Linked DNA regions of Homo sapiens. The protein of the gene in region 3 purifies or fractionates together with the protein of the main gene of each other region. This does not show direct contact. Each region holds a gene or a part of one and is shown on either strand. Other genes may lie near its edges.

The links.
Region 1: the proteins of WASHC3 (region 3) and GCC2 purify together in Homo sapiens (co-immunoprecipitation; 3 studies listed by BioGRID and IntAct, with this or other methods). This does not show direct contact.
Region 2: the proteins of WASHC3 (region 3) and MGAT4A purify together in Homo sapiens (affinity purification with mass spectrometry; 2 studies listed by BioGRID and IntAct, with this or other methods). This does not show direct contact.
Region 4: the proteins of WASHC3 (region 3) and POC1B purify together in Homo sapiens (co-immunoprecipitation; 3 studies listed by BioGRID and IntAct, with this or other methods). This does not show direct contact.
Region 5: the proteins of WASHC3 (region 3) and GOLGA4 purify together in Homo sapiens (affinity purification with mass spectrometry; 2 studies listed by BioGRID and IntAct, with this or other methods). This does not show direct contact.
Region 6: the proteins of WASHC3 (region 3) and RNF20 purify together in Homo sapiens (co-immunoprecipitation; 3 studies listed by BioGRID and IntAct, with this or other methods). This does not show direct contact.
Region 7: the proteins of WASHC3 (region 3) and RABGAP1 purify together in Homo sapiens (co-immunoprecipitation; 3 studies listed by BioGRID and IntAct, with this or other methods). This does not show direct contact.

What each region holds. Positions count from the first base shown.
Region 1 is NC_000002.12:108,455,110-108,459,494, reverse strand, and holds part of GCC2 (GRIP and coiled-coil domain-containing protein 2), read right to left. Parts: intron 1-4,385. UniProt on the Homo sapiens protein: Golgin which probably tethers transport vesicles to the trans-Golgi network (TGN) and regulates vesicular transport between the endosomes and the Golgi.
Region 2 is NC_000002.12:98,727,822-98,732,785, reverse strand, and holds the start of MGAT4A (alpha-1,3-mannosyl-glycoprotein 4-beta-N-acetylglucosaminyltransferase A), read left to right. Parts: upstream 1-1,653; 5' UTR 1,654-1,738; intron 1,739-4,964.
Region 3 is NC_000012.12:102,041,268-102,045,652, forward strand, and holds part of WASHC3 (WASH complex subunit 3), read right to left. Parts: intron 2,946-4,385; coding exon 2,838-2,945; intron 1-2,837. UniProt on the Homo sapiens protein: Acts as a component of the WASH core complex that functions as a nucleation-promoting factor (NPF) at the surface of endosomes, where it recruits and activates the Arp2/3 complex to induce actin polymerization, playing a key role in the fission of tubules that serve as transport intermediates during endosome sorting.
Region 4 is NC_000012.12:89,428,205-89,432,589, forward strand, and holds part of POC1B (POC1 centriolar protein homolog B), read right to left. Parts: intron 1-4,385.
Region 5 is NC_000003.12:37,249,106-37,253,490, reverse strand, and holds part of GOLGA4 (golgin subfamily A member 4), read right to left. Parts: intron 3,794-4,385; exon of another isoform or gene 3,749-3,793; intron 2,097-3,748; coding exon 2,007-2,096; intron 1-2,006. UniProt on the Homo sapiens protein: Involved in vesicular trafficking at the Golgi apparatus level. May play a role in delivery of transport vesicles containing GPI-linked proteins from the trans-Golgi network through its interaction with MACF1. Involved in endosome-to-Golgi trafficking.
Region 6 is NC_000009.12:101,543,609-101,547,993, reverse strand, and holds part of RNF20 (E3 ubiquitin-protein ligase BRE1A), read right to left. Parts: intron 3,228-4,385; coding exon 3,109-3,227; intron 1,175-3,108; coding exon 1,028-1,174; intron 858-1,027; coding exon 780-857; intron 596-779; coding exon 476-595; intron 1-475. UniProt on the Homo sapiens protein: Component of the RNF20/40 E3 ubiquitin-protein ligase complex that mediates monoubiquitination of 'Lys-120' of histone H2B (H2BK120ub1).
Region 7 is NC_000009.12:122,989,069-122,993,453, reverse strand, and holds part of RABGAP1 (rab GTPase-activating protein 1), read right to left. Parts: intron 4,158-4,385; coding exon 3,983-4,157; intron 3,399-3,982; coding exon 3,241-3,398; intron 1-3,240. UniProt on the Homo sapiens protein: May act as a GTPase-activating protein of RAB6A. May play a role in microtubule nucleation by centrosome. May participate in a RAB6A-mediated pathway involved in the metaphase-anaphase transition.

The DNA.
Region 1 (4,385 bases), on a different chromosome or scaffold from region 3:
CTAACAGATGTTTGTAGAACATTTTATCCAACAGCTGCAGAATACATATTTTTCTCAACAGCACATGAAACATTCATTCTTCAGAAAAGACCATATGTTAGGCCACAAAATCATTTTCAACAAATTTTTAAAAATCAAAATCATATCAAGTATGTTCTCGAACTACAATGGAATATTAGAAATCAGTATCAAGGGGAACTTTGGAAGTGACAGAAATACATGAAAATTAAATAACATGGTCTCAAATGACCATGGGTCAATAAGGAAATTAAAATGAAAATCAAAAAATTTCTTGGAACAAATGAAAATGGAAACTACAACATACCAAAACCTATGTGATACAACAAAAGCAGTGCTTTTGTATCACAAAACCTATGTGATTTTTTGTATCACAAAACCTGTGTGATACAACAAAAGCAGGACATGAATACTAAGTTTATGGCAATAAACGCCTACATCCAAAAAGTAAAAAGATTTCAAACAATCTAATGATTTACCTCAATGAACCAGAAAGAACAAGCCAAAGCCAAACCCAAAATTAGCAGAAGGAAACGACTAATAAAGATCAAAGCAGAACTAAATGAAATAGAGACTTTTAAAAAAGGCAGAGGATCAACAAAATGAAAAGCTTGTTCTTCAAAAAGATAAACAAAATTGATAAACTACTAGTTAGGCTAACAACAACAAAAAAGAAGACCTAAATAAAATCAGAAATGAAAAAGGAGACATTACAACCATTCTCATAGAAATAAATAGACCATCAGAGAATATTATGAACAGCTATGCACCCACAAACTGGAAAACCTAGAGGAAATGGATAAATTTCTGGAAACATACAACCTATCAAAGAAAAATCCAGGAAAAAATAGAAAACCTGAACAAATTAATAATGAGTAGCAAGAACGAATCAGTAATAAAAAGTCTCCCCACAAAGAAAAGCCCAGAACCAGATGGATGCACACTGAATTCTACCAAATGTATAAAGACCTAATACCAATCCTCCTGAAACTACTCCAAAATACTGAAGAGGTGGCAATTTTCCCTAACTCATTCTAGAAAGCTGGTGCTACCCTGATACCAAAACCAGACAAGGACACAGCAAAAAAAAAAAAAAAAAAAAGAAAGCAACAACCAATATCCCTGATGAACACCAATGCAAAAATCCTCAGCAAAATACTGGCAAACCAAATCTAACAGCACATTGAAAAGATAATACACCATGATCAAATGAATTTATTCGAGGGATGCAAGGATGGTTCAATATATGCAAATCAATGTGACATATCACATCAACAGAATAAAGGGCAAAAGTCGTATGTCATCTCACTAGACGCAGAAAAAGGAATTCATAAAATTCAACATCCCTTCAGGATAAAAACTCTTAGCAAACTAGGCACAGAAGGATTATACCTCAAAATAATAAAGGCCACATATGACAAACTCACATTAACATCACACAAAAATGGGGAAAAGCTGAAAATCTTTCCTCTAAGAACTGAAGACAAAGATGCCCACTTTCACCACTACTATTCAACATGGGACTGACAGTCCTAGCCAGAACAATTAGGCAAGAGAAAGAAATAAACGACATCCAAACTGGAAACATGGAAGTTAAACTGTCCCTCTCTACAGATGACAAAAGACTATCAAAAAATTCTTAGAGCTGATAAATTCAGTAAGGTTGCTGGATACAAATTCAACATACAAAAACCAGTAGCATTTCTATATACCAACAATAAAATAGCTAAAAAAGGAAATCAAGAAGGCAACACCTTTTACAGTAGCTCAAACAAAAGCCAAAGAAGTGTAAGATCTCTATAATGAAAACTACAAAAACACAGATGAAAGAAACTGAAGAGAACACAAATAAGCAGGAAGACATTTCATGCTCACAAAATATTGTTGAAATGATCATACTATCCAAACTAATGTACAGTTCAATGAAATCCCTATTAAAATACCAACACCATTTTTCAAAGAAACAGAAAAAAGAATCCTAATGTTTTCATGAAACCAAAAAAAAAGCCAGAAAAGCTAAAGAAATTCTGAGTTAAAAAATAAAGCGGCGGCATCATTCTACTTGACTTCAAAACATATTACGAGGCTATAGAAACCAAAGCAACAAAGTATTGGTATATAAACAAGCATACAGACCAATGGAACAAAATAGAGAACCCAAAAATAAATCCTCATATTTATACACAACCGATCTTCGACAATGCCATTAAGAACACACACTGGGCAAACGACACCCTCTTAACAAACGGTGCCAGGAAATCCAGGTAACTATATGCAGAAGAATGAAAGTGAGTCCCTATCTCTCACCATTTAGTTGATACAAATATCAACAAAAATAGATTAAAGACTTATATTATATAAGACCCAAAAGTGTAAAACTAAAAGAAGAAAACACAGGGCAAATGCATCAAGACATTGGTCTAGGCAAAGATTTTATGGCTAAGATCTCAAAAGCCCAGGCAACAAAAACAGACAAATAGGACTACATTAAACTGAAAGGCATCTTAAATTTTTTTTTTTTTTTTTTTATGTAAGGGCTCCCTCTGTCACCCAGGCTGGAGTGCAGTAAGTGTGATTATGGCTCACAGCAGCCTCAACCTCCTGGGATCAAGTGATCTTCCTATCTCAGCATCCCAAGAAGATGGGACTACAGGCATGTTCCACCATGTCTGGCTAATTTATATTTTTTTGTAGAAACGGATCTTGCTATGTTTCTCAGGCTGGTCTCAAACTGCTCGGCTCAAGTGATCCTCCTGCCATGGCTTCCCTTAATGCTGAGATTATAGGCTAAAAAGCTTCTGCATAGCAAAAGAAACAATCAACAGCATGAAGAAGACAACCTCTTAAATGGGACAAAATATTTGCAATCTACTCATCCAATATGGGACTAATACCCAGAGTATACAAGGAACTCAAACAACACAACATTAAAAAATAACCCCATTAAAAAATAGGCAAGGGACATGAATAGACATTTCTTAAAAGACAAAGAAATGGCCAAGAAGTATATGATAAAATACTCAATATCACTAATCATCAGGGATATGCAAATCAAAACCACAATAAGGAATGGCTATTAAGAAGAAAAAAAGTAACAGATATTGATGACAATGTGGAGAAAGAACTCTTCTACACTGTTGGTGGAAGTGTAGGTAAGCATAGTCACTATACAAAACAGTTGGGGATTTCTCAGGCCAGGAGCGGTGGCTCACGCCTGTAATCCCAACACTTTGGGAGGCCGAGGCTGGCTCCCAAAGTGGTCAGGGGATCGAGACCATCCTGGCTAATATGGTGAAACCCCATCTCTACTAAAAAATACAAAAAATTAGCCAGGCTTGGTGGCCGGCGCCTGTAGTCCCAGCTACTCAGGACGCTGAGGCAGAAGAATGGTGTGAACCTGGAAGGCAGAGCTTGCAGTGAGCCAAGATCATGCCACTGCACTACAGCCTGGGCGACAGAGCAAGACTCCGTCTCAAAAAAAAGAAAACAGTTGGGGATTTCTCAAAAAACTAAAAATAGAGCTACCATACAATCCAAAAACCCCAATATTGGTAGTCATTGAAAACAAATCAATATAACAAAGGGATATATACACTCCTGTGTTTATTGCAGCACTACTCACAATAGCAAATACATGAAATCAACTTAAGTGCCCATCAAAGGATGAATGGATAAATGTGGTATATATACACAATGGAATACTATATGCCCATAAAAAAGAATAAGATCACGCCATTTCCAGGAATATGGATGGAGCTGGAGGTCATTATGTTAAGTAAAATCTAAGACAGGGAAAGATAAATATTTTTCAAAATAGCCAGAAGACTTGAAATGTACACAACACATATATATGATAAATACCTGGCTGTGGATAGTAAATACTCTGATTTAATGATTATATATTCTGTGCATTTAACAAAATTTCACATGTACCCCATGAATACGTATAAATATAATGGATCAGGAAAAAAAAAGAAGGAAAAGAAAAAAAACCTTAAAGGTAAAGTTGGCTAACTTGGAGAATTTTTTTTTTTTCTTGAGACGGAGTCTCACTCTGTTGCTCAGGCTGTAGTGCAGTGGCACTATCTCAGCTCACTGCAACCTCTGCCTCCTCGGTTCAAGCGATTCTTCTGCCTCAGCTACCAAGTAGCTTGGGCTATAGGCGCGTGCCACCATGCCTGGTTAATTTTTGTATTTTGAGTAGAGATGGGGTTTCACCAAGTTGGCCAGGCTGGTCTCCAATTCCTGACCTCAGGTGATCTGTCCGCCTCAGCCTCCCAAAGTGCTGGGATTACAGATGTGAGCCACCGAGCCTGGCTGAAATTTTCTAATCTTGTCTTTAGGAGTAGTTTTGACAGTGGGAGAAT
Region 2 (4,964 bases), on a different chromosome or scaffold from region 3:
GACTTATTCACTATCACGAGAACAGCATGGGAAAGACCCTCCCCCATGATTCAATTACCTCCCACCAGGTTCCTCCCACCACACAGGAATTGTGGGATTTACAATTCAAGATGATATTTGGGTGGGGACACAGCCAAACCGGAAGTAGAGAGAAAACACACTCAAAGTAGAGGGAAGAGCTGTCATTGGATATCATGGCTGTGATCCCCCAAGTTGTGTCCACAGTGCTGGGCAGTGGACAGATCTTTTGGTATGGTTCCCCTAAACTAGTAAGAGACTATGGGAGCAGGGATGTTACGTGTCTCTTCCTGAAGTTTTAAATTAGCCGTCATGGAGAAACCTCAACATGGGAAGGCTGATAACTCCATGCATGTTCTAGCTGATTATTAATTATTCTTATCTTGAGATAAAAATAATGGAATTTATCGGAGGTGGGGAGGGGACCCTGTTCTGATTGATGCCTCTTAAGAGTTTTCGATTATTGAAATTACTGTTTTCTGAAAAGAATCTACTTATTACTTTGGGAGTTTGGCAGGAACAAGGCTGCCTCCTTGATCTTTGGCCCCTCAATTCCCTTACAGGTTACTCGGTAGGATTGCTGTAAGGATTATTGCGGCAATAAAGTTAACACATCCCTTGTTTTTGAACCATTACCAGCTGTGTGACCTTGGGCAAGCCCTTTCACCTCTCAGCTAGTTTCCTCTTATGAAAAATGGGGAATAAATTTAAAACATGAGATATGCAATAAACGATCTAACACCCATGCCTGCTATACGGTTGCCTGCTATACAGTTAAGTATTCAAAAGAGGACGTACCCAGGGGTAGTTACTGTTAGCACAAGTCCTATGGATACTATGAAAAACAGGGACAGACCACCCAGGCTTTCTACAAACGAGTCAGTTTTTTGCCTTTGAAGTTAACCTCTAACCTTGTGAAACGGCGACAGATAAGGACATGGGGTTCAAGAAAACGGGGCATAGTGGAAAATCAGGGGCATTAGCACCCAACGATGTGCGTTGAAACCCTAGTTGTTTTTCTCCTTCCCAGTTGCTGAAATCAGCCCTTCTGGCCGATTCGCGGGGTTCTCACCGGGAAGTTGGGGCTGTCGCGACCGTCCGCGGGGCCTCGGGAGCTCCTGTGGGGCTGGGCCCGGGACCTGTCCCCGGGGAGGCCGCCCAGTTTGGGCGGCCCGGAGCGGGGCGCGCCGCTGGGAAGGGGCCGGGTCGAGGCAGGCAGGCGCCTGGGAGCTGGGGCAGCCCCGGGTGGTCGGGTCGCGCGCCGAGGCGCAGGCCGAGGGCTCGCCCGGGCCTTTGTTGGCCGCCGGAGCGGTCCCTGCACGCGCCGGGAGGATCTCAGCCAGATGTGGCAGCGGGGCGGCGGGGAGCAGGCCGGCGCCCAGAGCTGGGACCCGAGACCGCGGCTCCGCTCCGGACCTCGCCGTGACACCGATGAGCCGGGCCAGCCTCCCGAACGCTCCGCAGGCTGCGTGGCGGCGCCCCTAAGTGACAGTCGCGCGGGCCACTGGTGGGGCGCGGGGCGCGGGGCGCGGGGCCCGCGGGGCCGGCCAATGGCTGGCGGGGTCGGGGCGGCCCGGCGGGGCGGGGCGGGGCGGGCGCTCCAGCGGCGGGGGCGGAGCCGGCGGGGCGGGCGGGGCGGCCCGCAGCGGCGGCGGCAGCGGCGGCGGCGGCTACAGCAGCTCCGCCGGCAGCCGCGGGAGCACGGCGACGCCAGCGGCGGGTGAGGGGCTCGCGGCGGCAGCGGCGGCGCGCGGGGGCGGGAGGGGGCGCGGGGCGGCTGCGCGGAGGGCGCGGGAGTTGGGGGCGGCGCCGGCGGCCGGGCTGGCGGCCCCGGGCTGCGGGAGATCCACCTGCTGGTAAAGGAGCCTACTGCGCCGCGGCCCGGCCGGAGCTCTGTGCGGGGGAGCTGTTGGCGCCTCTGGGCGCGGGGCCGGCTCCGGGAGCGGCTGGGCCTCGGGGGCGGGCGGCGGGGCGCGGGCCGGGCCGTCCTCCCAGCGTCCCTGCCCCGCACCGCGCACCCCTCGGGGTCGCGCGCCCTCTCTGCGGCCGGCTCGGCGCCTGGTGCGTTCCTGGCGCTCCCCGGCGTGGCGGGGCTCGGCGACTTTGGGGGAAAGTGGAGCAAAGTGCTGATCCGGGGGGTGCGGAGGGGGAGGGACAGCTGCCTGTGGGACCCGGGGGCTGCGCGGGAGTCGGCGCTTTCGCGGGGGCCGCGGGGCAGGTGGGCGGGGCCGGACGGTCCGAGGCGCAGGGGCAGGGGCTGCTCCCGAGGGGACCGGCCGTGCAGCCTTCGCAGGGAATTTTCACACAAAGTGAAGGGCTGCGGGGCCCGCGTGAAAGAGCAGCCCCCGTTTCCCCAGGCCTCAGCTCTCTCCGTAATGAGGAAGCTGCAGTAGGACCCTGAGGCTGGGTCTCGGTGACTCCACCAAGTGTGCCAGGTGACATCTCGGAGGCGAGCTTTTCTGAGCTGGCAGTCGAGCCACTTGCACACCCGCCTTTATTCCTCGCAACAGTGTGTTTCTCTGGAGCGGTTTCATTGCCTACATTCCGCATTGGAAAATAGAAGCAGGCACAATGTATGCTTTGAATGCTTTCCACGTATTTTGCTGTTGTGCTTTTGCTGTTGGACAGATTATTTGATAAAAGATAATGACAGTCGTTCGTTGGAACGTAGACTGTAAATTTAGAATAAAAATATGCGTTTTGTGGTTTATGTTTCTTTTTCTGAATGTTTAAAAAACAGTTTGATGAACAGGTTATCTTGACATAGATTTCTTTAACCCACACGTGTAAACCCGAAAACGCACTGGGCGATGACATTACGTAAGCTGTATTAAAGAAAACTACTGACCCGTTTATAAATGGCAAATAAATGAATTTTGCCACAATTGTGGTGTGTAAAGTTATATAGGCTTACGTCATGGATTTTATTGATTCCAGATATCAGGGATTATTGTGCCTTTCATTCTTAAGTCACCTCTACCCTGTCTGTGGGATGCTGATTAAGGAAGATGCCAAACGTTCGGCAAAGTGTTCTCAGCCGTGGACTATATTGAGTATTTCAGAGAACACTTTAAAATAAGTAAAGGTTTTGTATCCAATAATAAAATGAAGACTGAAGCCCTTAAAGGATTGCTAACAAAACAGTCTGATGTCTAGAGTTGAAAGTTCCATTCACCTTTGGGAGGGTGGAGAAATGACTAGCAATTTTAGCCACTACCTTTTTTTGTTGTTGTTAAAGATTCAAACGTGTTAGATTATAGTCTCCGAGAATATTAAGGGGCTAGATTAAAATTTTTGCAAATGTGGACACTAATAAAAATGTGGGTCACCTGTGTCTTACAAGCCAGCCTGTGAATTATGTCTCATAATTGAAGAGTGAGTAGATCCTTGGTTTTACTCTTGTCCGAAGAGTTTCTTCACTTGTGCCGTGCAGTTAAACTTATTAGCTGGGAAACCCTAATTAAAAATGTATGACTACATTCTTACTGAGTAAAACACGCATATTTTTCTTGCAAAATTTCAGGGCTTATTTGCTAGTAGAATTTATTGTAAGTATCTTCAGAGTTTCATAACTTACTGGATCCAGTATTTTTTTTTTTTCATATATTAGGGGTAGTATATCAATAGTTTACTTTGGTTTTAGAGTTCATTTACTTGTCTCTATGCATTTCTACGGAATGTTTTTACAAGCTTTATTTGTATTTAGTAAAACTTTTAAAATATCCTTAACTATATGATGTGCGCTCTACCTCCCCGTTATTATGAATTGAGTGCTTACTCTAATAACCTGTATGCTTTTTAGATCTTTTACTAGAACAAAATTCTTTCTCAAGTAAAATAGGGCTAAGTAGATAGCAGCTGAAAGTTATAAGTATTTTAATATAATGCCACACCGGGATTAATGTTCCAAGTTATATAATTCATAGAATTATCACCCGTGTTTTTATAATCAGAATTCATTATTGGGTGCTTATTGATTTAAGACAATTAGAGCAGTCTTGCTATGAAGTTTTTTTTTTTTTTCAAACTGAGTCTCTGTCACCCAGGCTGGAGTGCAGTGGTGTGATCTCGGCTCACTGCAACCTCTGCCTCCCAGGTTCAAGTAATTCTCCTGCCTCAGCCTCCCGAGTAAGCTGGGATTACAGGCACCTGCCACCACTCCTGGCTAATTTTTGTATTTTTAATAGAGACAGGGTTTCGTCATGTTGGCCAGGCTGGCCTTGAACTCCTGACCTCGGGTAATCTGCCTGCCTCAGCCTCCCAAAGTGCTAGGATTACAGGCATGAGCCACCACACCTGGCCACTGTGAAGATTTTAATTCTAAACTGTAGACGTGGGCATGTTTGATGTTAACTTGTCTTAACTGTAGAAGGTGAATAAGTTCAATCTTAGAGAACAATGATAACTTCTGCATGAGAATATTTTTAGATCTCTTTGTGTTCAGGTAGTAAAAGAGGTTAGGTGCTTCTAGAATATTATGTGGAAGGTAGAGCTGCTGTCTGAGGGTTAACAGGCATAGTTTGGTGGAGGGTTGTGGTGAGGTATTAGCCAAAAGCTACAGGAAGTGGAGATTTGTTTAAAGTTGTATAAACATACACTTTGAAAATTTCCATGAATTTTGCAACTTACTCCTTAGTAGATCAGTGTGTGTTATATAATTTATTTTTTTAATTTACACTTACAGTTGGGTATAATTCTGCAGTTTTACCTGATACTTGGAGTATCCCTGGAACTTCTCTTCATATTGCCAGGTGCAGGAGGCCTCATTTGAGAGGGAAAGTGTAGCAGCTAAGAGCTTGGACTTTGGAGACAAACAAATTCGAGTTCTTTCTCTGGATTCATTTCCTTGTGTGTAGAACAGGGTTAATAATGCCTGCCTCATAGGAACGATTTTGTGAAGATTTAAACCATGTGGTGGATCAGGCACATAGGAAACATTTCATAAG
Region 3 (4,385 bases):
ATGAACTACATCCTGGCCAGATATCAATTCTCAGTCGTTAACTTTTGCCTAATAACCAAGACCTCAACAAGGTTTAATTATGAAATGTATTACACCTTTGCTATTTGAATGACCCATTAAATCCTCTATCATATCTCTCAACTGTCCTTCATTTATTCTCAAATCAATCTCACTCTGCACAATTGGATATTCTATTGTGAATAATGATGAAATCTGAACCATGAAATTAAAGTTGCAGAAAAATCAGTACACAAACCTTGGGTCTTTGACTCATGTATAGATTAGAGAGAGTGATAAACAGATGATTTTTTTAAAAAGTGCATTATTCTCCTTTGTCTGATAAGTGAGTTGACTATAATGTCAATGAAAACTCTGGATTAAGCAATACTTAAGCCCACTTCAAAATATTTTGTATAAAATATACCAATTAATAACAATGAATAAATGAGAAGTTGATGTGAATATTAAGAACATGCTGAGCAGTTATTTTATTAAGCTAATCAACACACAATTTTATCACAGTATTTCAAACTTTGGAAGCCAACAGAACTTCATAAACCCTCTAAATAAATACATATACAATTTTTAAATAAAATTGCCAGAGATATACCAGGTTATTCTGAATTTGCAAAGCAAATTAAGAAATTCAGCTGTGATTACTGGTAATCAATTTTTGGGACATTAAATATGTGAGGACAAACACAACTGCATAAGAATTTTAAAGGGCATATTATAGATGGCATTCATAATAGCACCTGGAAAAATTAATAATCAAAGTTAGACAGGTATACTTAAAAATCTTACAGAAATATATGACAGCTCTATCTACCACATAATAACTACTAGGTAGTGTGGAAATATTTTCTTAATATTCTTTATAGACGCTTTATTTTAGAAAGAGGATAGTCATATTTAATTGAGAGAATGTAAAGTTAAACTCCTCTACAACATCTGGATATCCTCTTGCACATTTTATATATTTGAGTGGCCATAATGAAATTTGCTATATTAAATAAATGGATGTTAAATTTTATAATATCTAATTAAGTAAATGATCATCTAATTTATTACCCAAATATATACTATATTCTAAATATATGGCTCTTTCTACAGGGCCTCATACCACGCATCCTCAATATGTTTAAATAAATTGAATACAGGTACTGAAAACAGTGTAGTGTAGTGTAGTATAGTGTAGTGAAGCAGGTAAGTGCTAGGGCTCTTGGCACCAGACTGTCTGGGTTAAAATTCTAGCTCTTACGTTACTTTTCGACCTTCAGCAAGTTACTTAACCTCTATATACCTCATTTGACCCATCTATAAACTAAGATTGATAATATGGTGCTTACATTATAGGGCTGTTGTAAAGATTAAATTAGTTTATGAAAGGCACTTAGAAACGTGCATGCCTTGGTACACAGAAAGCACTCTTGAAGTGTTAGCTGTTATCATCACTGTCAACATCATCGTGATCTAAAAAATATCCTGTGAAAAGTGCCTCCAGGTACAAAGGCAGAATTCCATTTATAAATCTGTTTGTTTTATTTGTTTATTATTATTACTTTGGTAGGCCACCATTTTGATGATTACTTTGTTTTAGATTTTAATACCTCGCTGAGATACACTAGAGATTGTTCTCAAACAACAAAGAATTTTTATTTTTTGAAATAAAAAGTAATAGAAAATTTAAATTCATACAGAAGCATAAGTAAATGTTAAGATCTAAGAGCCAAATGTAAAGTATAGCTTTTACTGGGATGCTGATTCAAACGAATCATCTTCAAAAACACACTGGTATTTCTAAGATCAGTAGCTCTCAAATTTTAAGAGCCTACAGATCACCTAGGGGTCTTGTTAAAATGTAGATTCTCATCAGCAGTTTTGGGGTGGAGCCTGAGATGCTTCATTCTAACAAGCTGCCAGGTGATGCCCATGTGGTTGGTCCATGGCGTGTACTTGAGTAACAAGGGGTTAGACAATACCAGAGAATGTTTTATTTATTTATTTATTTTTTATTTTTGAGGCAGGGACTTGCGCTGTCACCTAGGCTGGAGTGCAGTAGTGTAATCTCGGTTCACTGCAACCTCTGCCTCGTGGGCTCAAGTGATCCTCCCACCTCAGCCTCCCGAGTAGTGAGACCACAGGTGCGTGCCACCACACCTGGCTAATTTTTGTATTTTTAGTGGAGATAGGGTTTTACCATGTTGCCCAGGCTGATCTCGAACTCCTGAGCTCAAGCAATCCACCTGCCTCAGCCTCCCAAAGTGTTGGGATTACAGGCCTGAGTGACTGCACCTGGCCAATTATTGTTAATTACACTGTATATGATAAAGGCATTTATATAAGCAAATGTTACAAAAGAAAATGTCAAAACTTTTCAGAGATGCTCAAAAATTTATGCAGGGTGAGATGACAAGATGTCTGGAATTAATTTCAGCAAGTGACCAAAAAAATAGATGAAGCAATTGTGAAAACTGGTGAATCCAGGTCTATTTTTGTGTATGTTTAAAAATTTTACAATAAAATATTTTAAAAGTACATTTCTTCTAAGAACCTAGAAAAATTTCTAATTATTTTGAAGAAAATAATTATTTGAAGCTTTTTCCTAGTCCTATATAGACTGATTTTCTTTTTTACAGGCAAAGAAAGTATTAACTTCAGGAAGCCCTTCAAAATAACACAGCTAATTTGTTTTTCCCAAACTTCATTTTCTATGTTAAGGTTTTAAAATTTTACTATTAGAAGTTTTACATGTTTATTTTTCTTCCTTCCAACCTGCTGCTTAACACTATCAGTTTCAACCAAGAACATCTGCTCGTTTCTTAGAACTCACTTACCTGTGGTTGCTCTGAAGTGGCTTCAGGATGTGCTCCATTTGTGACACTGGTGACATTTAAAGGAGATACTTCAACTGTGACATCATCTAGGCCTGGGATAGATGACAACTGAGAAAAGAAAATTAGTATTGGAATATGAAGATAGTACTTGCATAAATAAACACTATTTTTAATAGCTGTCTTAAGTTTTAAGGCTATACAAATAGGTTCACAATATCTTGTCTTTAATTTTCCATGTCATAAACTAAAAGTGAAAGACGGTCACAAATTCTTTTGAAGAACTTCTCAAAAATCTAATTTAGTTTACATAACCATCATTTTCAAAATATAGACAATCCTAGTGTAAGGACTGAGAGCCTGGTCTTTGAAGTCAGACTGTCAGGTTTAACTTTTAGCTCTACCACTCACAAGCTGTGTGATCTTGTGTAAAACTCCCTGTGTCTCAATTATCTCACCTGTAAAGTGGAGATAAGAACATGTACCTAGAAAAGTTGTTGTAAAAATATTTCTATTGATAATACTTCGAAAAAAAAGGGCTTTGTGCAAATTTTGAGTTTCAATTATCTAGGATATGACAAAACTCTTGTCTTTACACTTTAATGTGTGACACAGCTCATTCTTTTTTCTTTCTTTGAACATTCACCACTGAATGTTATTAAAATATGTTTCTTCTATGCAAAAAAATGGGCATATTGTTGGTATTTCAACCTGAAATGGTTTAGCTTTCACTATGAAATAGTTAAGCATTTCAGGTTAGATCTGCGAGACCCATACAAACCTTCTTTTCTGAGTTCATCCTGATATCAATGACACGCATTTGTCGATGTTTGGCTAACTTTGGGGATGACTCTATGGCCATGGAAATAACTAAGGTTAACTTGTCCATATGGTCATTTAATGTGCGACCTTGGACTCTAACTCCCAGGAATTCCTTAAACATTAAAATAAGACACATATTCACATTAAAATAAGACACATATTCATTATAAAGAATAATAATTAAAAAAAAAACCAATGGTAATAAGATCTCAAGCAGCAATACTCATTGAGAACTGTTGACTGATAACCATAGTTAGCACAGTGGCTATGGCCCAAATAGTTTCAAGTGGGTATGGCTGCTAGAGGACTATCTTGAACATGTTCAAGACCGGGTTTCCAAACTAGAGAAATGTTCTAAGAGAAACACAGTTGCTGAAGTCCATAAAGAGACGTAGAAAGTACAAACTAGACATTCTGGTCATATTAAAAAGGGATATCATTTTTTTCTTCCTCATAAATATTTACAGAATATTTCTTAGTTTTATTTTGGTAAATGGACAAAGAAAATATTAACTTCAGGAAAGTTAGTCATGAAAATACACTAGTGTCTCCATAACTTTATAAACAGAAAAAACACATGTAAAAAAATATTAAAAATGAAACCAAAGACATCACTGTTATCAAAATCTTTAAGCTTGCAATCTAAAACAGTCTTCTATTTTTCTTAGTTATTATTTGCAATTTCTGACATCAAAACTGGTATTCCTCATTAGCATTTAAGGTATCTGC
Region 4 (4,385 bases), about 13 Mb from region 3:
CCAACAAACAAACAAAAAACATTGCTTCTGCTCTGCCTGCAATGGCTTTCTCTGCCATCCTAGCATGACTGCATCCTTCTTGACCTCCAAATTTCAGCTTAACTGTCCCATCTTCAGAAATGCAGTCCCTGCCCTGACTACCCTACTGAAGCTGGACCTTTCATTCTCCAGCATGGCATCCTGATGCTTTCCTCTGTAACTGACCAGAATTTGTATTTATGTATTTGCTGCTTGTCTATTGTCTGTCTCCCTCACTAGACTACTATGTTTACTCTTCTCATCACTGTATCCCTTGGATCATTTCTAGTACTTAGCAGAAGCTTGAATATTTTAGAAAATGTTAACCACTTGTATACAGATTTTTTTTTTTGAGATGGAGTCTCATTCTGTTGCCCAGGCTGGAGTGCAGTGGCGCAATCTCAGCTCACTGCAAGCTCTGCTTCCTGGGTTCACACCATTCTCCTGCCTCAGCCTCCCGAGTAGCTGGGACTACAGGTGCCCACCACCACCTCCAGCTACTTTTTTGTATTTTCAGTAGAGACGGGGTTTCACCATGTTAGCCAGGATGGTCTCGATCTCCTGACCTCGTGATCTGCCCGCCTCGGCCTCCCAAAGTGCTGGGATTACAGGAGTGAGCCACTGAGCCCGGCTGTATGCAGATTTTATTATTGCTCTCACAGGTGGAAACCAAATTATCTATAACCAAGACAGTTTTTTTGAAAAAATATGGATCACAACATATCTAAGTATGTACATACATGGCCACAAATATTATTAATCATATTGTAATAACAGCTTCAGACCTTCTTGGAAAAAGGCCCCAATCATTCATTGAACTCTGGAGGTTTGCAGTCAAGGTCGTTAGTATAGAAAGGACAATAGGAAAATTGGCAAAGATGATTTAAGACCATAGACAATCTAAGCAATAAAAGAGCTCCAATAGGTTTTCTTGTTTGGCACAAGCAAAAAATATATTATTATCATATGACATATGGAAATGAAAGAAAAAAGGGAAAAGCATATGTGCAGAGAGAAAAAAGGGTGCCAGCTCTCCATCCTACAACATTAGCCAACTGACATCTCTCTTTGTCTCTCAAAGGTATTGAAACCTAGGTATTAGCAGATAGCTTTCTACCAACTAACCCTGTCTTTACATCCTGTTTGTACAGGAGAAAAGTGAGATGCACAGCATGGGGGAGGTTCAATACATTCCATTCATAAGTATTTTTTAAAAAGGTACAAAGGGAAAAACATGGTGTTTAAGATTCCTGGCTGATAGAAGTCCAGCAAGTGAGTCTGTAGTACCTGCTTCTCTCAGCACATTGAGATACTCTCCTATTTCAAAGGTGCTAATATTCAGTTCTGAGTAAATACTTACTGAGCATCTATCTATACATACTATCATACAATGATAAATGTACGTATGGTATGATGCCCGCTCTCAAGGATTCCCTGTTGCGATGAGAGAATTCAGACCAGGCAGGGCCCAAATCCCCCACAATGCCTGGCTCATCTCTGGCACTGCTGAATGAGCAGGAAATAAACAAGCAGACAGAACATAAGCAAACACATGATTGCAAGACTGCAGAAAAAACAAATGCTTTGGTAGTTCATAAAAAGAAGAAATTATATCATGTTCTCATTTCCCACCTCTTACTTCTATTGCTAACATTGTGTGATACAGTGAAGCAATAGTAATACAATCATTGATTGATCCTACAAATAAGGACCTCCTATGGTAGGCATTAGAGCTATAGCAAAGAACAAGTCAGACATGGTATCTTCCTTCATGGAGCTTACAATACTCTGGGGAAGTACTTTATCAAAAAGGATGGCAGGGCAATCACTATTCTTAAGTTCTTCTTTGGATAACCCCATGGTTGCCATCTTGAAGATGGGAAATGCAGCCTCACCAAGGGCAAAGAATGAATCTAAGGGCTGAGAAATCCTTATCTATATAGGTCAAAAGGACTCACTTTTCACCTGAACAAATGAAATGGAGTAAAAGATACAGATCTGACTGATGCAAAGAACTACGAAAGTCCTGAGAACTGAATACAAAACATATCACATCCTGGGGACAAATGACTCTTAAAAGGTTCTTTAAATACCATGGTTAATTCTAATGCATACATCTTCATTTGTCACTTATTTTTGAGGATGAATTATTTTAATGCATCAATGAAAACTGAAAATTTTCGCATTGCCAAACACATTTTTATTAGAAAATTAACCATTCAACAACATAACCATGGTCCACACATCTAAACTATTATTATTTACATAATTAACAAAGGAATATTCAAGATACTGTGGTGCTCAACTACGTGCGAAAGTTCATACATTATATCTACTCCCCTTCCTCCTTTCCTCTTCTCTCCTTCTACCACCACCCTTTCCACCACCCACCCTCTGGGCTGGCGAGTCAGAATTAATCACTAGTGCCATTTCACTCCCACAAGACTTCGTGCCATCAGTAGAGGATTTCTCACTCCTTATTATATTTGTGTTTACATATCCGTATTCCCCATTAGATTATGAACCCCTCATGTGGGGTCAGTAACTTTATCATCTCAGGTGCTTGGCATAGCACATGAGACACAGACAAAGCTCCACATTGGTTGAACTGAATTTAATGGACTGTCCTGCATCAGCTGAGCCAATCACAAAAAATTAAATATTAGCAATTTGATAGTATTTGAAGAGAAATATTACCCCCCAAAGTTAAACTAATGCCATTTTCTATTAAAAATTACAATCTTAAATGCCTTCTCAGAGGTACAGTGAGGAAGCAATGTAAGCATATATTATCTAACTTCAAATCACTGGTAGATTTTTATCCCCTAAAGGCATACTTGATAGCTTCTGGCTGAATAACAGATGGATTTTTCTAACAAATGTGAGTGCAAAAGTAGGCATTTCACATGTAAAGATAATCAGTGACTTGAACTTTAGATATACATTCAATCAGTTGGTTAAAATAAGTTAGTTTTGGTTTACAACTAACATTTCTACTCTTGGTTTAATTCTGTAAGTAGAGAAGAAAACAGATAAAAGGCAGAAAATATCTAAGCCAAAGTGTTTCCCATTATTGAAGGTTCTAAAATAGACTTGGGAAGGTCATTTGTCAGAGATATTGTGAAAGATATACAAACATCAAATCAGGAAATTCAATTGAATGCCTTTTAAAGCCCTTTTTATTCCTGATGTTCTGAGATTTTTAAATCACTACACACACACACACACACACACGCACATGCACACACACACGTATGTATAAAACGTCTGCCTGAAATAGACTAGAATAACAACAAAAAAAGCCTTTTGCCTTGGACAAAAATAAAAGCAAATATTTTTCAAAGAAAGACTATATCATTTATTTTCAATGATAAAATTTAGAGTAGGGATTGGAAACTTCAATAATCTCTACATAAGATCTAAGATAATGAATATATGCCAATTGTTCAAGCAAAATTATTTTATTTAGCACCTATGTGCCAGGCAAAATTCCAGGTGCCAGAGATACAGGACTGTGTTCATTTCCTACTGCTGCTGTAACAAATTACCACAAACTTAGTGGTTTAAAACAACATAGATTTATTATCTTATAGTTTTGGAGATTGCAAGTCCAAAACAGGATTAACGGGGCTAAAAACAAGGTGTCAGTAAGCTGCATTCCTTCTGAAGGCTCTAGGAGAGAATCCATTCCTTGCCTTTCCAGCTTCTAGAGGCTGTCCACATTCCTTAGCCCATGGCTGCATCACTCCAATAACTGCTTTAATTGTTATATCTTCTCTAATTCTCATGAATCCCTCTTTCCGTATAAGGACCCTTGTGATTATATGGGGCCCGGTCAGATAATCCAGGATAACCTCCCCATCTCAAGAGCCTTAACTTGGCCGGGCATGGTGGCTCATGCCTGTAATCCTAGCACTTTGGGAGGTCGAGGTGGGCGGATTGCCTGAGCTCAAGAGTTTGAGACCAGCCTGGGCAACACGGTGAAACCCTGTCTCTACTAAAATACAAAAGAAATTAGCCAGGTGTTGCGGCATGCACCCGTAGTCCCAGCTACTCAGGAGGCTGAGGCAGGACAATCACTTGAACCTGGGAGGTGGAGGTTGCAGTGAGCCCAGATCGAGCCACTGTACTTCCAGCCTGGGCAACGAGACTCTGTTTCTTAAAAAAAAAAAAAAAAAAAAAAAAAAAAAAGCCTTAACTTAATCACATTGGCAAAGCCCTCTTTGCCATGTAAGGAAACATTTTCATAGATTCTGGGGATGAAGACATAAATATTTTTGAGAGGAATGGTTGTTCTGCCTACCTCAAGGAGTGAATAAAGAGGCCCTGCTATCATGGTTATACTCTAGTGGGTGAAGGAGAAAAGT
Region 5 (4,385 bases), on a different chromosome or scaffold from region 3:
TTTTTGACAACTTTAACAGGTACTTTGACCACAGAGTGCAATCTAAACCTTACTTCAACTTATTTTATAATAAATAAAGGATTTTTCAATTATATAATTAAGTTTTTGGTTAAAAGGACATTAAATTAATTTTTTCATCATTTCCCTGTACCCTATGCGGTTTCTCATTTTGTTAAACTTCTAAGATAGAAGGTACTGTCAGGGATGGGAAATGGATGGGAACCAGGCTTTTTTTTTTTTTTGAAAGACAGGGTCTTACTGTGTCACCTAGGCTGGTGCAATCATGGTTCACTGCAGCTTCGACCTCCGAGGCTCAAGTAATGCCCCTGCCTTAGCCTCCTGAGTAGCTGGGACCACACAGGTGCATGCCACCATACCTAGCTAATTTTATTTTATTTTATTTTTGCAGAAACAGGGTCTCACTCTGTTGCCCAGGCTGGTCTCAAACTCCTGGACTCAAGCAATCCTCCTGCCTTGGCCTTCCAAAGCGCTGGGATTACAGGCATGAGCCACCATACTTGGCCTAAAACTAAGAACTTCTGTTCATCAAAGGACATCATTAAAATGAATGGCAAGCCACTGAGTGGAAGATAGCTGCAAGATATATATTCAACAAAAAACTCCTTAGTATTCTATATTTTTTAAAAAACTCCTACAAATCAGTTTTAAAAAAAGATAATCCAATAGAAAATGGGCAAGGGACTTAAGCACTCACAAAAGACATCAAATGGGCAATAAACAGATGTAAATGCTCAATCTCGTTAGTTATCAGAGAATGTAAATTAAAACCAAAATGAAAGACCACCACCAGAACAGCTGAAATGAAAAAGACTGTTTTCCAGCATATTTACACAGAGTAGAAAAATAAAGACTCTCAAAAATATAGGGCAAAAGCAACTTTCATAAGCTCCTGGTGAGAATTTAAATTTCTACAACCACTCTGGAAAACCATCAGCATTATCTTCTTATGTGTTAAAATGGAGCAGTGATTCTACTCCAAAGTACATACCAACAGAAATGCAGGTACATGTACACCAAAAAAAAGTACAATAATGTTGATGGCAACATAATTCATAGTAGCCAAAACCTGTAGACAACCCAAATGTTTAACTACAATGTTTACATTTAGAAAGCATATTTAAGAGGTAAAACTATTAAAAAAAAAAAAAAAAAGGAAGCAAGCAAATACCAAAAATTCAGGATGGTGGTAATCCTTCAGGGGGAAAGGGAGCACGACAGTGCTAACAGTGTTCCTTTGCTTGACCTGGGAGGATTCACTTCATGATAATTTGCTGACCCGTGCATTTATGTTTTACCTTCTTTTTGTATGTGTGTTACACTTCACAGAAAAAAAGTGGGAAATAATGAGTTTTAATGCCAGCTGCTGGTTACATGGAATAAGTTAAATAAGTTACTTCTCAGTTTCCACTCACCAGCTTGAAAAAATGATGCTATGTTGAACAAATTTATCAAATTATTCTGAAAACTTCAACTATTAAATCCAGAACATATTATCCTCTCAAATTAAGGTTCTCAACAACCATACTTTATAAAGCATAATTGGGAGAATCACTTGAGCCCAGGAGTTCAAGACCAGCCTGAGCAACATAGTGGGACCCCGTCTACGAAAAATTTAAACGTTAGCCAGGCAGGTGGCGTGCGCCTATAGTCCCAGCTACTCAGGAGGCTGAAGTTAGAGGATCACTTGAATCCAGAAGGTCAAGGCTGCAATGTGCAGTGATCGTGCCACCACACTCTAGCCTGGGTGACAGAACCAGACCCTGTCTCAAAAACATACATACATACATACAGACAGACAGACAGACATAAATCATAACTGCTATTTGTGAAAAAAAAAAAAAAAAGACCAATTGTGTTACTAATAAAAACTCTACCTAGGAATTAAATAGCTGACCTGTCAAAAGTTTCCCATTTTGTTATCAACAGCATACATTTTAGATTAGTTTCTTTTGAGAGGTATACTAGAAAAGGAATTCCAAACTTACCTCTCTATTGGGTGTACCTTCATCAAGTTGCTCTGTAAATGAAGATGTCCTGCTCCTCATTCTTGTTGGTGTTGAAGAATTGGAGGACGCCTAGATTTAAAAATTATTGCACAAATTAGCAAGACTATATTGACTAGTGAACTATGAACTAGGTAGTCCTTCTCTCAGTCCATGCCCAAAGAATTCAGTGAAAGAAAGGAAAAGAGCAAAAACACGAAAAGCAGAAAAGGATAACAAATATAATCAACTAGAAAACCCAGGCTACCTACTAGGTCCCTGGCCTAACTCTGCCACCAACTAGAACTATGATCTTAGCTACATGAACTTTTTGAGGACTATGTGTCTCCATATATAAAATAAAGTTGCGATACTAGTGTAAGATGATAATATTAGAGAAAACTGAAGCCAGGTGAGGGGTATATAAAAACTCTCTGCACTATCTTTAGAACTTTTCTATAAACCAAAATTATTCCAAAATTAGAAGTTCATTTAAAAAAAAAAGGCTGGCAATTCAATCTTTAAGATCCCTTCTACCTTCTAGCTCTAACATTCAATAGTATGAAATGCACAGATAAACAGCACTTGCCCACCTAATTAATGGCCTTGCTTTGAGCCTACCTTGAATACCACTGCTAAATACTGAGATGCTATTCCATTTAGCTCTGTAATTGACAGCCTGACTCCTATAACCCTCAGCGCAAAAAAACTCAGGAGAAAGGGCTCAAAATTTAAACTAGAGGTCTGGGGTCTACTCTAAGGTGAGCTAAAAACAACCCTAAAAGTATAAAACCAAAATTTTGAAATCCCCCTACACCCACAGCAAAATAGATCTGAACTCAGATCTATTTTGAGAAATGAATGAGTCATGATATCTTACCTCTTTTTGTAGTCTGCACTTTACAAAAGGCAGTTAATAAATATTTGTCAAATAAATGAATGAATGAATAAACAAATGGAACTCTGGTCTGTGGTATCCGTGCACAAACTGCTGTGGTTAGGGTGGAACTGAGAGGTCGTGAGGAATAGTATACAAATATACACATACTCTATATACACATATATACATCCAGACAGACATATACATATTTAGCTTATGATAAAAGTAACATTTTGCATCAGGATAGACATTCAATAAATGTTGGGACAACTGGCCATCCATATGGGGCAAGACACACAAATCAGATCCTTCATACTTAAGCTATATTAAAGATTTAATTTTTTTTATTGAAATACAAAAAATTCAAGAGTCTATTTCTACAATCTCTGAATGGGAAAGAGATTTTTATGTGAAAAACAAATCAAAGCAGCAGTTTAATTGGGAGGTGAGGAAAAGCATCTACAAATATGACAAAAGTTTAATAACCTTTTTTCTATAAACAGCTCTTATAAGTCCGTAAGTTAGAACTCAGAAAACTTACTAACCCAATCTTCTTTTTATCTGAGACAGGGTAACCTGAGCTCCATCAATGAAACACATGAGACTTCGAGTCATAAGTGAGTGATGTGAAAAAACAGACATACAAATAAAGTTCATCATCTGATGACAATGGAGACAGAACTTCATGCATCCACACAAATATAAGCTGTGAAGTGACAGATGCAATGCTGGTGCCAAGCTGAAGCAGCTGCAACACAGAGTAGTCTCCCCAGTATAACTGGACGTAGCAATCAGCTCAGACTTTTGGGACCTCAGGGAAATTCTGTAGGGTAAAGAGTCTTCAATAAATTATTTTTCTGCTTACCTAGATTGACTTTTTGTTGCTTACAACCAAGAACTCCAACACCTTCTAAAAGATGAACCAGAAAAATCAATACAACAGATGAAATTAGCTATGTGCAGAAGTCACCTTAAGGGATGACATATCCTCTCCCACCAAAGACAAAACAGGAAGAATAAGGACTTAAAAACATGAACAAGAGTAGTGTTGTGCGCCTGTAATCCCAGGTACTCAGGAGGCTGAGGCAGGAGAATTGCTTCAACTGCAGAGGTTGCAGTGAGCCAAGATTGCACCACTACACTCCAGCCTGGGTGACAGAGCAAGACTCCGTCTCAAAAAAAAAAGCATATAAACAAGAAAATCAATCAATGTGAAATAAAGTTGAAGCCTTAGCAATGGTTTAAATGTCTAGAAAATATGTGACTAAAAGTCAACATTGTACTTAGAAAATGGCAAGGGAAAGCACAGTCACTGTGTAGTATTAGTCTCAGTCTTGGAATAAGTTTGAGCCTACCTTGAACACCACGTTCAAATTACAAATGTTCAAAGAACATCAGAAATAGCTTTCATTAAAGTTGAGATAAATTCAATAAACCCTTCCCACACCTAGAGCCATAATTTGCAAACCATGCCAGTGCCAGCTTCAAAGGCTGTAGGTGCC
Region 6 (4,385 bases), on a different chromosome or scaffold from region 3:
TGTATGTTGATTCTGTAGCCTGCAACTTTACTGAATTCATTTATAGTTCTAACAGTTTTTTCGTGGAGCCTGTAAGGTTTTCTATATATAAAGTCATGTCATCTATAAACAGAAACAACTTTACCTCTTCCTTTCTGATTAAGAGGCCTTTATTTCTTATCCTTGCCTAATTACTCTGGCTAGGACAAAAGTAATGACAGCGAGCATCTTTATCCTGTTCCTGATCTTAAAGGAAAAGCTTTCAACTTTTCGCCATTGGGTATAATGTTGGCTGTGGGCTTGTTTTATATGGCCTTTATTATGTTGAGGTACACTTCTTTACACCTAATTTGTTAAGAGTTTTATCATAAAAGGATGTTGGATTTTGTCTACATTTTTCTTATCCCTCATGAATACGCAGATTCACAACTATGTATATACGTGAGTTGATCAGCAGAACGTCTGATTTTACTGCCCTTCAGGGATGCGTTCCTACCTTCAGCTTTTCATTTTGTGTAGTGACCTCCTCAAAGTCTTGCCGAAGTTTCTCCAGCTCACAGAGACGGTTCTGAGCCAACTCTTTGTTCTCCTCAAGCTCTGCATTCATTTCCTCAAACTGCAGAGAAGCAGAAAAATAGAGAATAAATAAGTATTCTTCTTAAATCATTTCTAAGCTTCCTTTCTTCACTGATTCGCTATTCCAGCAAAACCCCATGATGTCACTTGTGAACACAGTCCTAAGTACCTAAGCATGAAAGCTGACATACAGTCCAAAACATGTCCTGAGTCACTGATTTTACCTTCCGAGCATTGATAGTGATTGTGCCGCCATACAGACTGCTCCCCGCTCCATACACCTTATAACCTTTGGAATTCACCTACAGAGAACACAAAGATTCTTTAGTGAGAGACTCTTAAGATTTCAGTCTATAACCAATGTACCTTCAAAGGATGAGATTTTTTCCTCAAATACCATGCCCCAAGGTGAGTCTTCCTGAGAACACTCCTTAAAATGATTCTAGTCTCCAAGCCATAAAACAGCACTGACCCGTTCTAGGACTTCTGCTAAGTGTCGGTTGAGTCGCTGTTCCCTCTTTCGAATTTTGTCAATATCCCACTGCAGGTCATCAATCATGGACTCCAGGACAGACACTCGTGATTCGGCTGTCTCCACTTTACTCTGCAACTTGGAGAACTACATCCCAAAGACAAACATTCAGAAACATATAGCAAAAAAAGACCAAATTCCATAATATTAACCCTTGCTTATGAGTAATTATAGAAAAGAGGCAAATAGAAGATGCTTCACCCTCTTCCCAATGCATGATTACAAAAATGAAATCACGGATTCCTCCAACAATTCTGTGTCAGTTATAATCATGCAAACTTTAAGTCTAAAGTCTATAAGAACTCTCACACAAAGAAAAGACCACCTAAGATTCAACAATTTTTCTACCTCTGAAAAGCACCATTTCTCTGGACAGACCACAAACTCATAAAAATTTTGTAATTTTTTAAGAGATAATAAATAGTATCTTTTGTTTTGTAAGATAAATATTTTTTCAAAAAAACCATTTTTACCCCCAAATTTCTCTCCACAGTCCCACAAAAGGTAATCCATTCATTCACAACAAAAGAAAACTTCCATACTCTTTTTTAAGCTCACCCCAGAGCAATCTAGAGTCAGATACAATACAGTATAGATTATACTATAATCTAAAGTCAGATACTCTATTTAGGAGCTATACACCAGCTAACACTATTTAGTATTTTAACTACTAAACTATTACAAGTTCACATTAATCTATATATACCCTTTGTGCTAGGTTTTAAAACATGACACAAAAATCCTTTGAAAGTCCTCTGAACAAGAGGTGGGATCTTTGTTCCCTCCTCTTGAATCTGGGTCAACTTTAGAGACCCAATGGAAATGTCACTACACAATTTTGAGGCTATATCAGAAAGGCCATGAAGGTTCTACCTGGTGATCTTGGGATGCTCACTGGAAGAAGTCAGCCAACATGTAAAAATTCCAACCATCCTGAGACTACCATGATGGAGAGGCAAACTGCAGGTATCCCAGTAGACAATTAACCCAGCTGACAGGCAGCATCAACAGCCAGCCATGAGAGCCAACAAGGACATCACAGTTTAGCAAACAACTGCCCTCCAGGTTAGTAATACTATCTGAGATTTGTCAAAGGGCTAGAAAAGGAAGACCTCTCCATCTTGGTAGCACCTAGTCAATGTCTTAAAACATGATAAAAATATTCTATTTTCTTACTAGACTCCAGTTTATTTATAAGGGCTACTACATTCTAACCCCTTTGAAGGTCCAGGATAATCCATATGAATTAATAAATTCCCCAGATGATATTCATGCAACCAGGCCAGCATGGACCTTAACACTGGGGTTTAGTAAACAAAGGCATATGAAGAACAAGAGCTTTGAAGTCAAACAGACCTACAGTCACAACACAGCTCAATCACTTTCTAGCTATGTGCCCTCAGAATAATCACTAACCTCTTTGAATTTGTTTCTTTGGCAATAAAATGGGAGTTGTTTTGCCATTAGAGATAACATTCATAAAGTGCTTAAATTCTAGGCACTAAGTAAATGGCAACTACTAAATTACTAATTAGCATAAGAATTCAGTGGCCAAACTAAGGTGGGGCAAATTCCAGTAGAATATATTTTGAACTAAATCAAAATGATCATCAGAAGTATCAGAAAAGTCATTTAAGGCCTATCATCACTTTATCTTGATCATTTTGTGTAAATAAATAAATGTCCAAATCTTGGCATGGTTTAATCATGGCATTATTTGCACCCAAGTTTAGACTGAAAATTGACATTCCTCAAATTCCTAGGACATCATCAATACAGTAGTTTCTACTTCCCCATTCCCTGTGGAATTTCTACCACGCCATTCCTCAATAACACTATACAGTCTTTTATATTTAGGGTAATTCATTATTTGGAGGTTTGGAGTTGTGTTGTGTTTTACAAAATCCCCTATGATATGATAGGCCTTCTAGAGTAAGGTAATCTTTGAGGTGCTCAGAATTGTAAGTCAACATCTGCCACAGCCCACTAGACACAGCCATCTCTCCTTTTTGGTTAAGTACCTCCTGAGACATGGTGCGATGCTTTTCCTGAAGAAGATCTGTCAATTCCTGTAGCCTCATATTCTCCTGTGCGAGGAAAGAGTTCAGCTCCTGCACTGCTTCCTCCACTATCAGATTATCTGGGGAAGAAGAACTATACTTTAATTTAGCATCTAGAGTGTCATTTTTTTTTTTTTTTTAAGACGGAGTCTTGCTCTATCGCCCAGGCTGGAGTACAGTGGCGCGATCTCGGCTCACTGCAACCTCTGCCTCCAGGGTTCGAGCCGATTCTCCTGCCTCAGCCTCCAGAGTAGCTGGGATTACAGGCACATGCCACCACACCCGGATGATTTTTGTATTTTTAGTAGAGATGGGGTTTCACCATGTCGGACAGGCTGGTCTCAAACTCCTGACCTCAGGTGATCCACCCACCTCAGCCTCCCAAAGTGCTGGGATTACAGGTGTGAGCCACCGTGCCTGGCCTATAGTGTCAAATTTTAAAACTGTGTATCCTTGGCCAGGTATAGCAGCTCACGCTGTAATCCTAGCACCTTGGGAAGCCAAGGCAGGCCGATCACTTGAGGCCAGGAGTTCAAGACCAGCCTGAATAACAAAGCAAGAATCATATGCTCTTATCACATATTCTCATATCATATATTCTGAAATACTATGTTAGGGGCACTTCTGAAGCTTAAAAACCAAAATGTACACTACTATTTACAAAGCAGGTAGGTAAATCCATAGAACTTATTACACCAAGTTCGTATGTTTAAAATTAGAGTTGCAAATACTATAGCTGAAATCCAAATGTAATTAAATGAAACCAGATACTCTCAGGATATATACCACCCATCAAAGAGAGTTATCAGGAAGAAAAATATGCTTTCTCATATCACCTCTTGGCATTACTCTTAGTATCAATACAGAACAGGTTGGTCATATGGTGGTTTTCATGGTTTTCAAGCTAGGCTTGCCCATCAGAATCACTTGTGGAACTTTTAAAATAGACATTTCCCTAGGACCTATCTCATACCTACTTAATAAGAACCTCCATGGGCAAAGCCAAAAATAAGAATATGCTCAGAAAACTCCCAAGGTTATTCTGATTCATAACCTGAGTTAAGAAGTAGAGACTGAATTTTAGTCCTCTCAATATCCTAAGCACTGAGGACAGGGCTAGAATACAATAAAATTCAATAAATGTTTAGTGAATTTATAAACAAGCCCATAAATGCAATTCTTTTGAATCAAAGACCAAACAAACAGACAGTACTGCCCTGGCAGGTTAGACAGTGCCG
Region 7 (4,385 bases), on a different chromosome or scaffold from region 3:
CTAAAAGTACAAAAAGTAGCCAGGCGTGGCGGTGGGCACCTATAATTCCAGCTACTCGGGAGGTTGAAGCAGTAGAATCACTTGAACCCGGGAGAAGGAGGTTGCAATGAGCCAAGATCACGCCATTGCACTCCAGCCTGAGTGACAAGAGGAAAAACTCCGTCTCAAAATAATAATAATAATAATTTAAAAATTATACTTTTTCAGAAATGAGAAGAGCATTAATTATTCTCATCATACTTTGTCTATATTTATGTTAAAGTAAAACCACAGTAAATCTTGTGTTATACACAAATATGAGTTGGACAGGGGATAAGTAATATCCATAAACCAACATGTTTTAGTACTCTATTCAACACTTAATTTCTACTTTTAAAATTTGCTATTAATATTATACACAGTATGTTGGAGAACATTCATAATAATAATTCTTTGAAAACCTCAATGATTATTTCTGCAGATAAATTTCCATACATATTACAGAATTACTGGATAAGAGGAACTACCTTTGACAAGTTTAAATCTGACAAACCAAGGTATATTTTGCTAGGATTTCATACATCTAAAGTACTGTTGTGTTAACCTAATATATTTAGGTATAATAATTATTTTGGTATAATAATTATTTAGGTATAATATTTAGATAAAATAAATATTTAGGTATAATAGTAAGTATATAATAGGTTTTATATAATAATAGGTATATAACTATTACATAATTTATATGTATAATATATAATTATTATTATACCTAAATAATATATATTAACCTAATATATTTAGGTATATTGATCATTATACTTAAATAATATATTTAAGTTAACATAACAGTATTTATTATAAACCAGAAATTCAGCAAAGCCATGTAGCAAAAGGAGAACAAAGTCCTAACAAATGTGAAAAGCAAATCTGACCATCCAGGGATTTTCTGTAATAGCACTTTGTCAGTATTAACAAATAGAACAGAGATGTTTATGATCATTCTACCTTGAATATGCCTGATTTCAGAAGGAAGGGAAGTTATACTGATACTTCTGAGGGATCTTAATCTTTCCTATTTAATAATTAGAATTTACAGACCAAAACTACATAAATATTTTCAATAAAGAAAAAAAGGCCAGGCATGGTGAATCATGCCTATAATCCCAGCACTCTGGGAGGCCCAGGTAAATGGATCACTTGAGGCCGGGAGTTTGAGACCAGCCTGGCCAACACGGCGAAACCCTGTCTCTACTGAAAAATAGAAAAAATTAGCCCGGTATGGTGGCAGATGCTTGTAATCCCAGCTACTCAGGAGGCTGAGGCATGAGAATTGCTTGAACCTGGGAGACAGAGGTTGCGGTGAACCGTGATCGTGCCACTACATTCCAGCCTTGGTGACAGAGCAAGGCTCTGTCTCAAAAAAAAAAGAAAGAAAATATATTTAGTTTAAAGGTTGCTTAACAAGGTAAAAAACTACTTAAAATTATACAGATTATAATTTTCACTTTGCAGGGCAGGAAGGTACATTGCAGGAAGGACTACCTCACAGCATTGCTTTGAGAATAGAAATAGTCAGGAATGGTTGGCTCATGCCTGTAATCCCAACACTTTGACAAGCTGAGACTATCACTTGAGACCACGAGTTCAAGACCAACCTGGGCAATGTGGCAAGACCCCATCTCTAGAAAAACTTAAAAAAAAATTAGCCAGACATAGTGGCATGCATCCGTGGTCCCAGCTACTCAGGAGGGCGAGGTGGGAGGACTGCTTGAGACCAGAAGGCTGAGGCTGCAGTGAGTCATGTTTGTACCATTGCATTCAAGCCTGAGCAACAGCGTGAGGCGTATCTCAAAAAAAAAAAAAAAAGAGAGAGAGAGAATAGAAATCTATCTAATTAGAAAGCATAGAGCACAATGAGTCATACTTTACTCCTCAAAGTTTAAGCTGCACTGTACACTAAATTGGCCACCAGATGGCATGACAATTCCAAAGTCTGAAGAAAGACTAAAAATTATCAGTTTTTCTAATAATCTAATAAACCAATCACTGTGCTTAATTTAAAAGCAAAATATTAGAAATATTCATATTTTTATATAACTTCATTTTACCAATTTAATGAGGTAGTCATGGAGGAAACAGACTTCTACATGCAATTACTGATTATAATACAATCATTTTGGGACATGGGCTGTAATTTTAAAAACATCAAGTCATCTTGCAACCATAAAATTTTAAAGTGAGAAAGGGTTTTAGAGTCTAGCCACCTCATTTAATAAATGAGGAAACTACTGACAGATGTAAAGAAACTTGGAAATGGGGACACTGTTAATAGTAACAATAATTAAACTAAAGCTAAGTTTTGACTTCTATTCCATGGTTCTTTCCACCACTCAAAGGATTATCATTATATTTAAAAATTAAAATCAGTCACTTCTAACCCTACAAAAGATTAGACTTCAGACACAGACCTTATTTCTCCCCTTCCAATGTATGCAGATAACTTTACTGGGAAAACTTGACTTGAAAAGGCTTAAGATTTTTAGATTATTAATATAAGTAAATCAACCAACTAAAACAAGCAAATACAATCAGCAAAACAAATATAGCTACAAATCCAGCTGACTAAGCTTTGGCCATATATATATATATATATATATATATATATATATATATATTTTTTTTTTTTTTTTTTTTTTTTTTTTGAGACGGAGTTTCGTTCTCGTTGCCCAGGCTGGAGTGCAGTGGCAGGATCTCGGCTCACTGCAACCTCTGCCTGCCGGGTTCAAGCGATTCTCCTGCCTCAGCCTCCCAAGTAGCTGGGATTACAGGCACCCACCACCACGCCCGGCTAATTTTGTATTTTTAGTAGAGACAAGGTTTCTCCATGTTGGTCAGGCTCATCTCGAACTCCCGACCTCAGGTGATCCGTCCGCCTCAGCCACCCAAAGAGCTGGGATTACAGGTGTGAGCCACAGCGCCTGGCGGTTTGGCCATATTTTTGTGAGCAGTTAGCCACTTGGTATCTGACTAAAAGAAGGTAGCAACATGTTCCCAATATGACAATTTTTTTAATTGCTTTAAAATTCTTCAAACTTTGCCTCTGTTAAATTTATGTATTTATATGCCTTTATCATCCAGATTTTTTTTAAAAGCCCTCCCTTTAAAAGCCATCATTTTATGGTATGAAAGTTATAATCTGACCTAGAATTTCCCCTGAACCACAGCATGTTAATACATGAATAAAATAAGATTCCCTACCTAAAATAACCTTTACCATCATCTTCTTTTATTTCTAAAGACACAGAGAAGGTAAAGATGTCACTGTCAGGAGTCTGGGGTGCAGCAGTGGCTGAAAGTGGGGTCTGCTTGGCAGAACGGCGGAAGGCAGTGGCAAAACTGTAAAGTATCCGGCTTACCTACAACCAGACATGTTAGGAAATGGGCTGTTATCAAAAGATATAAAATACCTTTATTAAGGCTGGAAGATTACCTACTTTGGAGGGCAATAATTATCTTTATCCCACTTATTTCTTTTGGTAAATTACCTAATTTGTTAGGCCTATAAAGCAAGCAACACTAAAAATGTCCAGACAAGGGGTTTTAAAAAAGAAATGGTTGTAAGCACTATAAATCCAATTTAAAAATCACTTCCTAAATTGTTAGAAACTATCTGAAGATATTACAATGAAAACAGTCCTAACAAGTTTTGATTTAAAAGAATGGTTTGCAAATCTGTCAATGTTAGAACCAGAATGCCTACTTAACCCAATCAAAAGTAGCCAACAGATCTCCTCTGACATTCTTAGTAGTAGTAACAAAGTTCTAGTTAATCAAATTTTTAGTTAATTTATATTTTGGCCCATGAGGCTAGAATCACTAAAACAATAGCAGAGAATTTCATCTGGCTTATGAGTGATCATAATAAATACCATAATCATTTCAACCTAGTGAGGGCACTGGTGAAGTTTCATTTGCAGAGAGTTTTCTCTTGAGGACTTACAGCTTCTTGTATTTCACACCGGAAGACGTGTATTCTGAAGAGCTCTGCATTGTAATGACTTTCAGTGAAAGCAAAACAGTCACTCTCAGGAGTTCCATCATGCCCTCTGACACAGAAGAGGATTTTGTAGATAGGGTAGTTTGCTATTTCAGTGTTTGTCTGAGGATCTAAGAGTCTGTTCAGAGAAAAAGATACAGAGAGATTACAGGAATTATGAACAATCTGCACTACGTTTAGATTAAGATGTGAGACTCATTCTTTCTAGTAAGAAGATCATATATTTGGTATGCTGATATTAACCTTAAATTTTAATAAGTAACTCATATGTGAATTCCGGAAGCTATTGATTACGTAATTCCATAGTACTAAAAACCATATAGTATCATGTTTTAGGGAGGCAAAC